4 linked regions of the Homo sapiens genome follow. The protein of the gene in region 1 purifies or fractionates together with the protein of each later gene. This does not show direct contact. Each region holds a gene or a part of one and is shown in the gene's direction. Other genes may lie near its edges.

Region 1 (4,028 bases):
ACATCAGACAATTAAAAAACAAATAGTAAATCTGGGTAAAGAATATATCTCTTTTTACTATTCCTACAAATTTTCTGTGTCTAAAATTATTTCAAAATAAAATGAAAGAAAAAATAAAATGACATTTTTGAATAATTAAAAAAGAGAGTGTAAGGATTCTTGAGATTAAAATCTCAAGTTTAAAGGGTCTTGAGATTACAATTTAAAAAGTTTGAGCTCCTAAACTTATGTGATCTGCCCACCTTGGCCTCCTGTAATCCCAGCTACTAGGGAGGCTGAGGCACAAGAATCACTTGAACCTGGGAGGTGGAGGTTGCAATGAGCCGAGACTGAGCCACTGCACTCCAACCTGGGAGACAGAGCAAGATTGTGTCAAAAATCAAAACAAAAAAAAACCCCAGCAACGCTTGAGACCTGCTCCTGCAAGTATTTAACTCACAGAAAAGGAGATAGCACCAGGTAAAAATGAAGTAAAAGCTGTGTAAGCTGTGTGTTGGGCCTTGCAGAACAGGAAGCCTGAGAAAGGAGAGGTTATTTAGAATGCAGCCTCTCTTGGGGAAAACGTATATTCCAGCGATCCTCTCTACAATGGGACTTCATTCACCCTCCAAATCCTTTTTTGGAAGTTTGTGTCTTAGCTTTCCTCTGTTGTGACTTTTACTGCTCCTTCTGCTCTCGATACAGACACCATAAAATTTACCGTTCATCCAAGAACACTTTTGAGAGTAAAAAATGGAATTATTAATAATTACAGGACAATAGCCTTGCCTAGCTGCCATCTTTCTTATCCTGTCCAGTAAGTACCCCTAAGAGTAGAATTGTTGAGTCAAAGGACATGAAAACTGTTGTAGATCCTGTCCGCTCATGATTCTATCAGGAATAGGAACACCAATGATTACATTAGCCACGAGGTGATTAGGTTTCAGCAGTGCATTTCTGTATTTGATCTCCAACACATTTTGCTTTTTAAAGTTGAGTTCTGAAATTAGAGACAAGAGCAGATGGCAGTAGATTCACTCTAATTCAGGGAGTTATTAAGAAATTTTGAATTTTTTTACTATATAATTTGAAGCCTGCTTTAATGTCATCATCATAAACGGAAGGGTGGGTTGATGAGTTTACTCAGATTAGAGTGGTACAACCTTTGGGGCGGAGCCTCTGACTCTGATTGGTTGGACAATGTTTTCCAGGCAGTATAAAAACGCTGGTGTCTCTCCGCGGAAACTCCGAGAGGAGCAGAGGTCTGTAGAGGTAGAGACGTAGGCTTCGGATCTTTTAGAATTCTGCTGGAAGTCTCCAAGTCAAGGTAAGTTATACCTTCTGTTTAAGCTATTTCCAATGTCCTATTCTGTCTTTGGCTACAAACTGGTGTTTTCGAATGCCTTTAACTATTTATTTTAGAGGAGAAAGAACTAGTTTTTTCCTGTGCCAGGGAGCTTTCTTCACCTTTAACTATAACTTTGCCATTTAAATTTTTACATATGAACCTCAGGTCACTCTTTGCATGAACTTGTATTTTTATGTGTTTTCAACTACAATGGATTTAAATGGTTTTAAAATGGTTTCTTTTTATTTTCCAACATTTCTTAAAAGATTTCTGGGTTTTCGGCCGGGCGCCATGGTTCGCGCCTGCGCTTTGGGAGGCTGAGGTGGGTGGATCACGAGGTCAAGAGACCAGCCTGTCCAACATGGTGAAACCCCGTCTCTACTAAAAATACAAAACTTAGCCGGACGTGGTGGCACATGCTTGTAATCCCAGCTACTCAGGAGACCGAGGCAGGAGAATTGCTTGAACCCGGGAGGCAGAGGTTGCAGTGAGCCGAGATGGAGCCACTGCACCCCCAGCCTGGGCGACAGAGCAAGACTCCGTCTCAAAAAAAAAAAAAGACTTCACTTCGGGTTTTCACTTAAATATACTTGGCCACTTTTAGTAGTTGTGTCATAATTAGCTGAATCATTTTATTATTGTTAGATAATTCGATTGTTCCTGATCATTTGGGATGGTAGTTAACACTGAAATGAACAACTTGTGAATAAGTGTAGCATTTTTTTTCTTTTGTAAAATTGTTTTCTTAGATACATTCCAAGGTGGGTTAGGCAATTAGATTTCCAGCACCATGTTAAATTTCCCATTAAATTGAAAAAGATAACAGAATTTAAGAAAGAGGTAATCTCTGGTTGTCCGCCAGCCAGGCACCATGAGATTGGAATGCTGATCAGGACTTGGAAGACAAAGTTTTATGTGGGCAGATACCCTGTTTATTACACACGTTTGTGTTTCCAGAGTCCAGTTGAGGCCAAGAGCACAGAAGGGGCTCAATAAGTATTTGTTGGAAAGAGATTAGAGAATGTGTTCTGGGATGTAGGACAGTTCTAGTAACTCAGTCTTAGGCTGGCCTCATCGGTGTTCATCACTTCCTCTCTCTGGTAATGTTGATGCTGCTCCTCTTTCTGTCCCTCATTCTGTTACTACTGTCACCACTGAATGTGTGATTTGTGGGTTCTTGGTAAGGAGTTCTGCTAGTTACTGCTCAGTGCAGGCTCTTATTGGAGAACAGTCCTCTGTTCACATAATCTCAAAGGTGCTGTCCAGCTTTGCGAGGCTGTCTTTGGGTCATGGGTCTAGCCTGGTCCAATATGCTGTGCCCAGCATGTCAGAGACAGCTCACTCAAAGAATAATAGCCATGGTGGGAAGTCCTCTGGGAGCACCAGAGGCTCTCAAGCTTTGGGAGCAGTTGGGGTAACAGGAGGGCATCTTCCTTGTCTGGAACATCTTTTTGGTTTGTATTCAGGCATGATTATTTTGGAGAAGTTGATGACTATTATATTTTTATTCACATTAATTCAAGCCTTAATTAGTTTTCTTAGAGTGCTTTAAAGCATTTCATCTAATAACACTTTGTCCTTAAACTTGATTCTTTTATGGGCTTCTCATTTTGCAGTGGATTTTGCTGGCTTTACTCACATGTGGTAATTTTCCTGGAAATTCTGAGGATTCCTTAGAGTCACTTTTCTGTGATGATTAATGTAGAATTGGCTTTATTTTCATTATTGAATTTAGACATGAACATTCTTTTTCCTGAACTGCAGAGGATCTACAAAGAAATACTGAGTGGAGACTATACTGAGATTCTGTTAAAGACCCACTTGAATTCAGCCCCCATTAGGAGAAACTTTGGCCGGAGCAGCCAACACATCACCTGGAAGTCTTCAGACTAGGTAAGCTGCACTGTCTGAAAAGAAAGTTTCCACTGTCCTATTTCTGTCTTGTGATTATCTAGAGTTTGAAGAGTTTCGAAATCATTTTTATCACCATGACTACATTACTGTGATTCTCTAGCAATTTAGTGTCACTTTCATACACAAACTGCAGAAATATTATTTTTTTGTTATTCTTAATTTCTTAGTTAATAAATTTATTATTATTTATTAAATAATATAATTCATTTATGTATGCCAATAACTTATTTATTAATTTATATTATTTAATCTTGGATTTAGACTATTGAAGAGTGGATTGTGTACTGAGGGCTCCCAAGTGCTTCCAGAAGCCAATAAAGGATCACTTCAGTTTACTTCACGGCTAAGGAGTAACCCTTAAGAACCATGGCCAAACGCCTGCAAGCAGAGTTGTCCTGTCCAGTTTGCCTGGATTTTTTCTCCTGTTCCATTTCTCTCTCTTGTACACACGTGTTCTGCTTTGATTGCATCCAGAGGTATATACTAGAAAACCATGATTTTAGAGCGATGTGCCCCTTGTGTCGAGACGTGGTGAAGGTACCTGCTTTGGAAGAATGGCAAGTGAGCGTCCTAACACTTATGACCAAGCAGCACAATAGCCGACTTGAGCAAAGTCTGCACGTGAGGGAGGAGCTCCGGCATTTTCGGGAGGATGTGACCCTGGATGCAGCCACTGCCAGCTCCCTCCTTGTCTTCTCCAATGATCTAAGAAGCGCTCAGTGTAAGAAGATCCACCACGATCTGACAAAAGATCCCAGGCTGGCCTGTGTCCTGGGTACTCCCTGCT
Region 2 (3,500 bases), on another chromosome or scaffold:
ACCCGGCTGATTTTTTTTTTTTTTTAAGGTGGAGTCTCGCTCTGTCACCCAGGCTGGAGTGCAGTGGCGCAATCTCAGCTCACTGCAACCACCACCTCCCGAATTCAAGCGATTCTCCTGCCTCAGCCTCCTGAGTAGCTGGAACTACAGGCCTCCGCCACCACACCTGGCTAATTTTTGTATTGTTAGTAGAGACGGGGTTTCACCATGTTGGCCAGACTGGTCTCGAACTCCTGACCTCAAGTGATCCACCTGCCTCGGCCTCCCAAAGTGTTGGGATTACAGGCATGAGCCACCGTACCCAGCCGATTTAAGACTTTTTTGTGCTGAAATTCTGTGTGTGAGAAATGTTGGTCTTAAGTCAAATTACATTTTTTTCCTTTTGCTTTCTTAGTTAAATAGACTACAACCTTAATATGGTTCACTGGATCTCAACATAATTTGATTTTTCTTTTGGCAGGTGCTGAAGAAAAAATCCTAACAGAATTCCGTGAAGCTTGCCATATTATACCTCATGACTTTCACCTGCAGGCCATGGTTCGTTCAGCCGGCAAACTGGTTCTTATTGACAAGTTGCTTCCAAAGCTTAAAGCTGGTGGCCATAAAGTTCTGATCTTCTCTCAGATGGTGCGCTGCCTAGACATCCTAGAGGATTATTTAATCCAGAGGAGGTAAGAAAAGAGTCATCCTAGCCTGTGGTTACTCTGTCCTCATAAAGCAGCAAAAAGTAGGAGGGCCTGGATTTAATTAGAGTTCACCAATTGCAATAAGAGAAGTTTTTAAGATTCTCACTCTCAACTTGGGTTTTTGACCAGCTTTGATATGGGAGTACTGGTATTGATCCTAGCCTGCTGTTTTGGTCTCCACTTCTGCTTAGCCACTTACATTTTTTTTCTGCGATTCCCATACAGGTACTTATATGAACGTATTGATGGGCGAGTTAGAGGCAACCTTCGACAGGCTGCCATTGACCGCTTCAGCAAGCCTGACTCAGACCGCTTTGTCTTCTTACTGTGTACCCGGGCTGGTGGACTTGGTATTAATCTTACAGCTGCTGATACCTGCATCATCTTTGATTCAGACTGGAATCCACAAAATGACCTGCAGGTAAAGGAATTCATTGTCTTAGGGACTAACTACCTAACTTGGGAGATTTTTCAACAAGAATAGGATCTTTTAGAAAGACCTTTCACAGAGTTTGGAATTGTTTCCTTAGTTAAGGGTGGCAGTTAGGTCAGGGAATCAGCAAACGTTTTCTGTAAACGACAAGACAGTAAATGTTTTAGGCTTTGTGAGCCATCGAGTCTTTGTTGCAACTGCTTATCTCCAAGTCCTGTAGCGCAAAAACAGCCATAGATAATATGTAAATGAGTGGGTGGTCCCACCTGTGTCCCCATTGAACTTTATTTTTAAAAACAGATGTCCACACAGACTTTAGTTTGCTGACCCCTGGTCTACATGATGGGGTGATAATTTCATCTTGAAATTGACTCTTGGTTTTGAGTTGATCTCATGGCTGCTCTATAGAGGTGAAAGAATCATAAATTGGTATTTTGTATCCTTTCCCTTGCTAATTTTATGATATCTTTCTCCTTTCCTTTCGTTTTTATTTTAAACCAGGCCCAGGCACGATGTCATCGAATTGGGCAGAGCAAAGCTGTGAAGGTGTACCGCCTCATCACTCGTAATTCCTACGAGAGAGAGATGTTTGATAAGGCCAGCCTCAAGTTGGGGTTGGATAAGGCTGTGCTTCAATCCATGAGTGGTCGGGATGGCAACATTACTGGAGTGAGTCCTCTTAGTTTATAGATAAGTTTGTAGTAGATCATTGTGATAGAGGGAAACAAAAGCTATTTGTACACAGGGATTTGACTACCTTGTTTGGATTCTCAATTATTATTTCTTAAAATATAATAGCTAAAATATTATGGCATGGTTAGATATTATTCTCTTGATAGTCTTTTCATCTTTCTATTGGTTTTTACAGATCCAACAGTTCTCTAAGAAGGAGATTGAAGATCTTTTAAGAAAAGGAGCATATGCAGCCATCATGGAGGAAGATGATGAAGGCTCCAAGTTTTGTGAAGAGGACATTGACCAGATCTTGTTAAGACGAACTACAACCATCACCATTGAATCTGAAGGAAAAGGTTCCACCTTTGCTAAGGCATGTTCTGTCTATGCCAGAGGCTAGAAAAACACAGAGACCGGAATCTCTAGGATTTAATTATGTTTTTATGCTGGGGATGGTGGCTCATGCCTATATTCCCAGCACTTTGGGAGGCTGAGGCGGGCAGATCACTTGAGGTCAGGAGTTCGAGACCCAGCCTGCCCAACATGGTGAAACCTCATCTCTACCAAAAATACAAAAATTAGCCAGGAATGGTGGCTTGCGCCTGTCGTCCCAGCTACTCGGGAGGCTGAGGCAGGAGAATCACTTGAACCCAGGGGGTGGAGGTTGCGGTGAGCGGAGATCGTGCCACTGTACCCCAGCCTGGGCAACAGAGCAAGACTGTGTCTCAAAAAAAAAATGTTTTTAAAACATAATTGCTGATTTTGCACCACTTAAAAAAAAAAGTCAGCTTTACCTCTGCATTTGTTTTTCTCTAGGCAAGCTTTGTTGCTTCTGAAAACAGGACAGATATTTCTTTGGATGACCCCAACTTTTGGCAAAAGTGGGCCAAAAAGGCTGACCTAGACATGGATCTGCTCAACAGCAAGGTGAGTTTCTTCTTTTAGGGAGGAAGTATCGCAGAAGACCACACTACTTTCGGGAGTCTTTACAGCTACTCTGATTATTTGATGCTAATTGTGATTTATGATGGTGTATTGTATACAAGGGCTGTTGTGGATACTTTCTACCTAGGAGGCCCCAGAAAAGTAGTTGCTTTCTGAATAATTTTGCTTTCTGTAGATTATTTTACATGTCATTTAAAAAAATCTCTGAGTATCTACACGTTACATCCAATGTTATTGTAATCCCTAATTGTCTTATTCTTTTCCCATGAGCAAATCAGGAAGAGAATTACTTCTCCTTCTGTTCTCTTCATAGAATAATTTGGTAATTGACACACCTAGAGTACGAAAACAAACGCGCCACTTTAGCACTCTGAAAGATGATGACCTGGTGGAATTCTCTGATTTGGAAAGTGAGGATGATGAGCGGCCACGCTCCCGCAGACATGACCGTCATCATGCCTATGGGCGCACTGACTGCTTTCGGGTGGAAAAGCATCTCCTGGTATATGGGTAAGACCCCAACTTACCATTAGAGGTAGTGCATAGTGCATCTCCATCCTGATAGATACTCTTGGTTTGCCTTTCAAATTGGGGGCTATGATCAAAGAAGGGATAATGTGAAAAAATATTTGCCTTGGAGGGAGTTTGTTCTGTTTATTCTGTTACCATGTTTTTTAAGATCTTTGTTTCACACCTTTTCAGAGACATGATTCTGAGGGACAGGGGACTGTCATTTCTCAGAAAAATGTTAATATAGTTTT
Region 3 (3,500 bases), on another chromosome or scaffold:
CTCGGCCTCCGAGAGTGCTGGGATTACAGGCGTGAGTCACGCACCCGGCCTGAAGATTCTTAAGGGAGTGATCAGTTCTACCTGCAAAGGTTGGAAGAAGCTTGTACAACTGATTCTTGAATTTTAATTGCATTTAATTAATAGGTGTTGACCAGGATGGGGAGGGCATTTAGGCAGTGCAATTAGAAACAGCCTAAGGAGGAGCCAGGCGCAGTGAGTGGTTCATGCCTGTAATCCCAGCACTTTGGGAGGCCGAGGTGGGTGGATCACTTGAGGTCAGGACTTCGAGACCAGCCTGGCCAACATGGTGAAACCCCGTCTCTACTGAAAATACAAAAATAAGCCAGGCGTGGTGGCAGGTGCCTGTAATCCCAGCTACTTGGGAGGCTGAGGCAGGAGAATCACTTGAACCTAGCAGGCACCCCACTGCACTCCAACTGGGGCGACAAGCAAGACTGTGCCTCAAAACGCGCGCGCGCGCGCACACACACACACACACACACACACACACACACACACAGCCTGAGGAAAGTGAAGAATGGTATCTTAGAGAAGGGAGAGTTTGGTTGCTGTGCAGGATGAAAAATCAAGTTTGAATAGATAGACTGGAGGTCATGGAGGATCTCTTGTCATGCTGAAAACATTAAATTTTATTGTCTTAACAAATGGGCAACAATAGCAGTTTTAAGCAGGGGAGAATCATTATCAAATGTGTATGTGTTTCAATCTAGAGGCACCTGCGTAGTGTGTATGTGGGTTTAGAGTTTGAGGAGAGAACTGGTTGGCAGGATGTTATAATAACCTGAATAGGCCGGGCGCGGTGGCTCAGGCCTGTAATCCCAGCACTTCGGGAGGCCGAGGGGGATGGATCATCTGAGGTCGGGAGTTCGAGACCAACCTGACCAACATGGAGAAACCCCGTCTCTAATTTAAAAACAAAACAAAAAAAAAAAACCGAGCCGGGCGTGGTGGCGCATGCCTGTAATCCCAGCTACTCGGGAGGCTGAGGCAGGAGAATCGCTTCAACGCAGAAGGCAGAGGTTGTGGTGAGCCGAGATCGCGCCCTTGTGCTTGGACAACAAGAGCGAAACTTCGTCTCAAAAATAAAAAATAAAAAATAACCTGAATAACCATCGTCTGTCTGCTCCCTAACACTCACAGGATTAGAATTTCTGGGGATAGTACTTAAGCTACCAAAGAGGATGCCATCACTCAGAGATATAGAGGTGATCAGAAAACTGCAAAAGAGACCTTCTTGTCTTTTTCTCTACCAACTGTTATGATTTGTCATTGCCACTAGCATGTATTTGGCAAAACTTGCTATGGCCTTGTTTGTCTTCCTTCTATAAAATGAATTTGTTCTAAAATTTGGAAATAGAAATTACTGTTTTTGTTCTTTCAGTATATTCCAGTGGGTTGCTGCAGAGTAATATTTTTATGTTTTCAATGCTTTTAGTTTACACTTAAATGTTTGTGTTGGAAATGTCTTTTCTGCTAATTCAGTTATTGGAAAAGGGCTGTAATTGAGTAGGGTAGTAAATACTAATTGCTTGTTTCTTTAACTGAATAACATTTTCCTATTGTTAACGGATTGACTACAGGTGTGCTGTTTGACTTTCTATTACTTGTAACTGAAGTTAGCCTCTCTTCCTCTACCCCCGCAAAAGTGTAGGAGACTGGGTGATGGTCTTGTATTCTCTACAAGTTGGTGGCGTTGTTTAGGCCCCAAGCTGGAATGCTGATGACCCTATGATTCTCTCCCTCCACCCTTTACATCTGTTTTATCATGCAAGTTCTGATGATTTTTAGACTATTTTTCTAGGCTCTGCTTCACACCTCATTGACACCTATCTTCCCTAATTAAGGTCTTTTTTTTCTGGCATGTATGTTGCCCTATTAACAGTAGCTTTCCAGAGGGTACATGGCTCACACCTGTAAACTTAGCACTCTGGGAGGCCAAAGCAGGAGGATTGCTTGAGCCCAGGAGTTTGAGACAAGCCTGGGCAACACAGGGAGACTCTTATCTCTACAAAAATTTAAAAAAATAAAATAACTGGGCGTGGTGGCACACATCTTATAGTCCCAGCTACTTGGGAGACTGAGACAGGAGGATCCCTTGAACCCAGGAGGTTGAGGGTACAATAAGCCATGATCTAACCACTGCACTCCAGCCTGGGTGACAGAGTGACACTGTCTCAAAAAAAAAAAAAAAAAAAGGAAAAATAGCTTTCCAACTGATCACAGTATCTGCAGTCTTCATTCCCTGATAATAAATCTCCACCTTGCTGCCATAGGCATCTCTCCTCTTTGCTATTTCGATTATATCACTGCTTCTGAAAACTCTGTAAGGTGCCTATAGCAATGGTTCTAATATTTGGGAGGGAGAAGGGGATTCAAATCTCTCTCTCTCTTTTTTTTTTTTTTTAAGGAGATAGGGTTTCTCTATGTTGACTGGGCTGGTCTTGAACTCCTGGCTACCAGCCATCCTGTCGCCTTCCAAAGTGCTGAGATTACATGGCGCTCTTGTCAAAATGGATGGACATTTACCTCTGAAATGTGCCCAAGTGCATATTTGCATTCCGTAGGGCTTTTTAGAAAATCACATTGAAGTTCTTTTACAAATCTTAACTTTTGAGGATGCTATAGACCATCTTATGTTTTTTTAAAATGCTGGGTTTTTGTTTTGTTGTTTTTTTTTTTTTTAAATGCCGTCGCATTTACTTGAAGTGCTCATCCACCCATCCCACTCTTGGATCCTTTAAAGCTCTGCTCAGGTCTTGTTTCTTCGAAAAAGCATCCCCACACTTTAAAAACAAAAAACTGGATTAGATACACATGCTTTCTGCTCTTATAACACCTTAAGAGTCTTACCCACTAACAGTAACTTCAAATTAGCAACTGAATCATTTTGCTTCCTAGTGTAGACCCTGGCCAAAGTAGGTATTCATTTAATGTTTATTAAATAAATATGTAAAGTTAGGACTTTTCAAGCATTTTCCTTTGAGTAAAATATTTACTATTTTGTAGCCTATGTTCTGGAAATATTGAACATCTAGATAATAGGTTATAAGGATTTTAACTAACTGGACACTTACCTATATTTTCTAAATTTTGGAAGACTTGATATTGAGGTCTCATCCAGACTAAAGTTTTACTAAATGGCATCTTTACAAATAAAAAAATTCAAGATTTCATATTTAGCTCTGAATGTCTGTTTCTTTAAAATCTCCTTGTTTAGCCAGTTTAGACTAATGTCTGAGCTAATTGTGTTTTCCTTTTTGGGAGAGAGGTTAGAAAAGGTCACTACATTTGAAAAGACCAGTTGTGGAAATAGTAATTTTTTTTAACTTATCAGTGATATCTGATGTTATCAGTATACTAAAAGTGGACATAGAACGTTAAAGAAGGAACCAAAGAGGCAAAGATACCTGGAGTTATTAGGGACCTATTTTGAGATTTTGTCTCTGGCACTAAGAATTTATTAATTTATTGAGTTTAGC
Region 4 (3,500 bases), on another chromosome or scaffold:
TGTTAGACTGGTCTTCTTGTGAAAGACTGTCTTCTAGGATTTCCGGGGATTGATGTATCTTTTCAAGGTGGAAATAGAACAGTCGCCTTGAAAGAATTTCCGTTAGGGAACCCGGATAGTTGGCATTTTGCATGTTTTGTTATTTTGTTGTGCAGTAGGTGCTCTCTGTGTTTGTGGAGTATACCACATAGTTTTGTTACCACTCTAGTGCATCGAGGCAGATAGGATCAGATTGAGAGATGTGTGCTACTCCTCGGGTAAAATGAGGTATTTACTGGAGCCAGTTAACTTCTATCACAAAATGCCCAGCCTTGGAGTTACACTTTTTGTATGCTTTATTCTTGGGAGCTGTGCTTAATTCACATAACAAAGCAACTTAATTAAAATTAGCCTGTAGAATTCCATAATCGTGATGATTGTGATGAGAAGTATTTCACGTGCTTTGTTTGAATTATTGCATTTAATCCTCACAGCAACCCTGTGAGGTAAGTTCTATTATCCTGATTTTACAGATGAACAAACCGAGGCTGCTAGAAGTTGGTAGCGCCAGGGTTTGAAGCAGGCGAACTCCAGAGCCTCTCTCCTGCCTCTCGTGCTCTGCTCCTTCAGTAGCTGGAGGTGCCATTGCATGTTGCAGGCCAGGAGTCACAGTATACACAGACTGTCTTTTCTGTATAATGAGCAAAAGTGCCAATCATTTTTAAATTCTTGGACTCTTTAGGAAAAAGACGTCTACCTGGTGGAGCACCGTGGCAGGTTGCCTCAGCGTGGGAAGTCCCATGTACTTCCGTTCAGGTGCTCAGGAATTTGGAGAGCCAGGATGGTGGAAACTTGTTCATAACAAGCCCCCAACGATGAAACCTGAAGGAGAGAAGTTGTCTGCCTCTACTTTGAAAATAAAAGGTACTGTTGTGAGAACAGTACAAAAGTTGCTAGTCAGACCAGAGCCAAGCAGGTGTGAGCCCAGGAGACGCTCCTGCTTCCACTGGGCATGGCTCGCAGGCCTCTCTGGAGCTACTCTGTTTAACACTTCTGTGATGACACTTGTGTGTGTGCTAGAAATAAATGCCACATAAAAACATTTTATCACTTCCTAATCAAGCTATCAGTTTTATAAATTTCCCAGGGTATCTGAAAGGTTCAATGTTTTCCATCTGGTTTTTGTTTTTAAACTTCTCACAAAGGTGAAGAGATATTTTAAAATTCCCGTAATAAATAACATGATGAATTCCCATGTACCTTCCACCTCACTTTGACATTAACTCCTGACAGTCTCATTTTATCTAAATCCTCAGTACTTTTCCCCAACCTTCCCCATTCTTACAATTGGATTATTTAGAAACAAATCCCAGGAATCAACATTTCATTCCTAAATATCTTAGTATGTATCTCTAAGAGATCAGGATTCTTTCCTTTTTGCAGCCTGACCATAATGCCATTTTCATATTTAAAAAGATGTTAACAGTGACTTCTTACTATCACATATTGATCTGGTTTTATAATCTAAAAAGCTTTTAATGAGCTTTTAAATTTTTATATTTATTTGTTTGCTTGTTTGTTTATTTATTTGAGGTACAGTCTCGCTTTGTTGCCCAGGCTGGAGTGCAGTGGTGCAATCTTTGCTCACTGCAACCTCTGCCTCCTAGGTTCAAATGATTCTCGTGCCTCAGCCTCCCAAATAACATGCCACCATGCCCAGCTAATATTTTTGTATTTTTATTACAGACGGGGTTTTGCCATGTTGGCCAGGCTGATCTCGAACTCCTGACCTCAGGCGATCCACCTGCCTTGGCCTCACAAAGTGCTGGGATTACAGGGTGAGCCACCGGATCAGGCTGATGAGCTTTTAAAATTTTAAAAATATGATTGGGAAGAAAATCAAATAGTACTTAAGGGTGTAAAGTATGAAAGTTCCCCCACCTGCCTATGGCCTGCAATTTCACTTCCCAGAGTAACCACTGTTGTCTTTTGTGAATACTTTCAGAAAGATCTCTGCAGATTTAAGCATTTTCTTAGTTTTTTAAAAAAGTAAAATGGACTCGTACTATTATGAGTTTTCCATTTTTGCCACACTTACCAGTATGTCTTGGACATCTTTCCATGACAGTACATGTAGATTTACCCTATTTTATTTCATTACATCCATTATATAATTATGTGATAATTTGTTAAACCATTCTCCTGTTGATGGACATTTTGGTTGTTTCTACCTTTTTGTTGCTATTTTATTTATTTATTTTTTAATTAAAACATTTTTAAAAAGTAATAGAGATAGGGTCTCGCCATGTTTCCTGGGCTGGTCTTGAACTGTTGGGCTCAAGTGATCCTCCAGCCTCTCCTTCCAAAAGTGCTGGGATTACAGGCATGAGCCATCATGCCTGACCTTTTGTTACTTTAAACAGTGCTACAATTCTACAAATTTGTGTACATGTGAAAATGTGATAAATTCCTGGAGTTTCTACATCAAAGGGCATATTCATTCAAAATTTTAATCAGGATTGCCAAATTATCCTCCAAGAAACTGTAATAAGGCCGGGCATGGTGGCTCATGCCTGTAATCCCAGTACTTTGGGAGGCCGAGACAGGTGGATCATCTGAGGTCAGGAGTTCGAGACCAGCCTGGCCAACATGATGAAACCCCATCTGTACAAAAATACAAAAATCAGCCGGGCGTGATGGCGCATGCCTGTAATCCCAGCTTCTCTGGAGGCTGAGGCAGGAGAATTGCTTGAACCCGGGAGGCGGAGGTTGCAGTGAGCCGAGATCACACCACTAACATTCCAGCCTGGGTGACAGAGCAAGACCCTGTCTCAAAAAAAAAAAAAAGTACCCATTGAAATGCCCATGAAAATGCCCATTTCCCCATACATTTACTGAGCTTTATCAAACTTTTTTTTTGGCTCACTGCAGCCACCACCTCCCAGGCTCAAAATCCACCCACCTCAGCCTCCCAAAGTTCTGGGATTAAGAGGCGTGCACCACCACGCCTGGCTAAACTTTTAATGTTTGCCAGTTCCAGTAGGTGAAAGATAGTATTTATTTGTTTAAATTTGCAGTATAACTTCTTTTTTCTCAAGAGATATCTAAGTCTTTTTTAGTTTAGGGCATTCATTGAACATTTCTCTTTATTGAACATGATATTACTCATAATAATAAATTAGCAAAAGAAACTAAAGTTGAGTAGTTATTTTAAAATTTAGATATGGGTTGAGCAATCCAAATCTGAAAATCCAAAATCAAAAACACTCCAAAATCTGAAACTTTTTCAGCACTGACATAACGCTCAAAGGAAATGCTCATTTGCAGCATTTCGGATTTTGTATTTCTGGGTTTGGGATACTCAGCCAATAAGTAAAATGCAAATATTCCAAAAGCCGAAAACATCTGAAATCCAAAACATGCTTGTGCCCAAGCATTTCAGATGAGGGATACTCAGCCTGTATTTATTCTTTCTTAGCAGCCTCAAAACCAACTTTAGATCCCATCATTACTGTTGAGGG

The links. Proteins that work in one complex are often made in the same cells at the same time.
Region 2: the proteins of RFPL4B (region 1) and CHD8 purify together in Homo sapiens (affinity purification with mass spectrometry; 3 studies listed by BioGRID and IntAct, with this or other methods). This does not show direct contact.
Region 3: the proteins of RFPL4B (region 1) and ZBTB10 purify together in Homo sapiens (affinity purification with mass spectrometry; 3 studies listed by BioGRID and IntAct, with this or other methods). This does not show direct contact.
Region 4: the proteins of RFPL4B (region 1) and KAT14 purify together in Homo sapiens (affinity purification with mass spectrometry; 3 studies listed by BioGRID and IntAct, with this or other methods). This does not show direct contact.

Annotation. Positions count from the first base shown.
Region 1 is NC_000006.12:112,346,102-112,350,129, forward strand, and holds the start of RFPL4B (ret finger protein-like 4B), read left to right. Parts: upstream 1-1,228; 5' UTR 1,229-1,306; intron 1,307-3,091; 5' UTR 3,092-3,220; intron 3,221-3,502; 5' UTR 3,503-3,607; coding exon 3,608-4,028.
Region 2 is NC_000014.9:21,400,624-21,404,123, reverse strand, and holds part of CHD8 (chromodomain-helicase-DNA-binding protein 8), read left to right. Parts: intron 1-460; coding exon 461-671; intron 672-911; coding exon 912-1,107; intron 1,108-1,620; coding exon 1,621-1,788; intron 1,789-1,987; coding exon 1,988-2,167; intron 2,168-2,610; coding exon 2,611-2,721; intron 2,722-3,052; coding exon 3,053-3,249; intron 3,250-3,500. UniProt on the Homo sapiens protein: ATP-dependent chromatin-remodeling factor, it slides nucleosomes along DNA; nucleosome sliding requires ATP. Acts as a transcription repressor by remodeling chromatin structure and recruiting histone H1 to target genes.
Region 3 is NC_000008.11:80,492,726-80,496,225, forward strand, and holds part of ZBTB10 (zinc finger and BTB domain-containing protein 10), read left to right. Parts: intron 1-3,500. UniProt on the Homo sapiens protein: May be involved in transcriptional regulation.
Region 4 is NC_000020.11:18,158,363-18,161,862, forward strand, and holds part of KAT14 (cysteine-rich protein 2-binding protein), read left to right. Parts: intron 1-721; coding exon 722-903; intron 904-3,457; coding exon of another isoform or gene 3,458-3,460; coding exon 3,461-3,500. UniProt on the Homo sapiens protein: Component of the ATAC complex, a complex with histone acetyltransferase activity on histones H3 and H4. May function as a scaffold for the ATAC complex to promote ATAC complex stability. Has also weak histone acetyltransferase activity toward histone H4.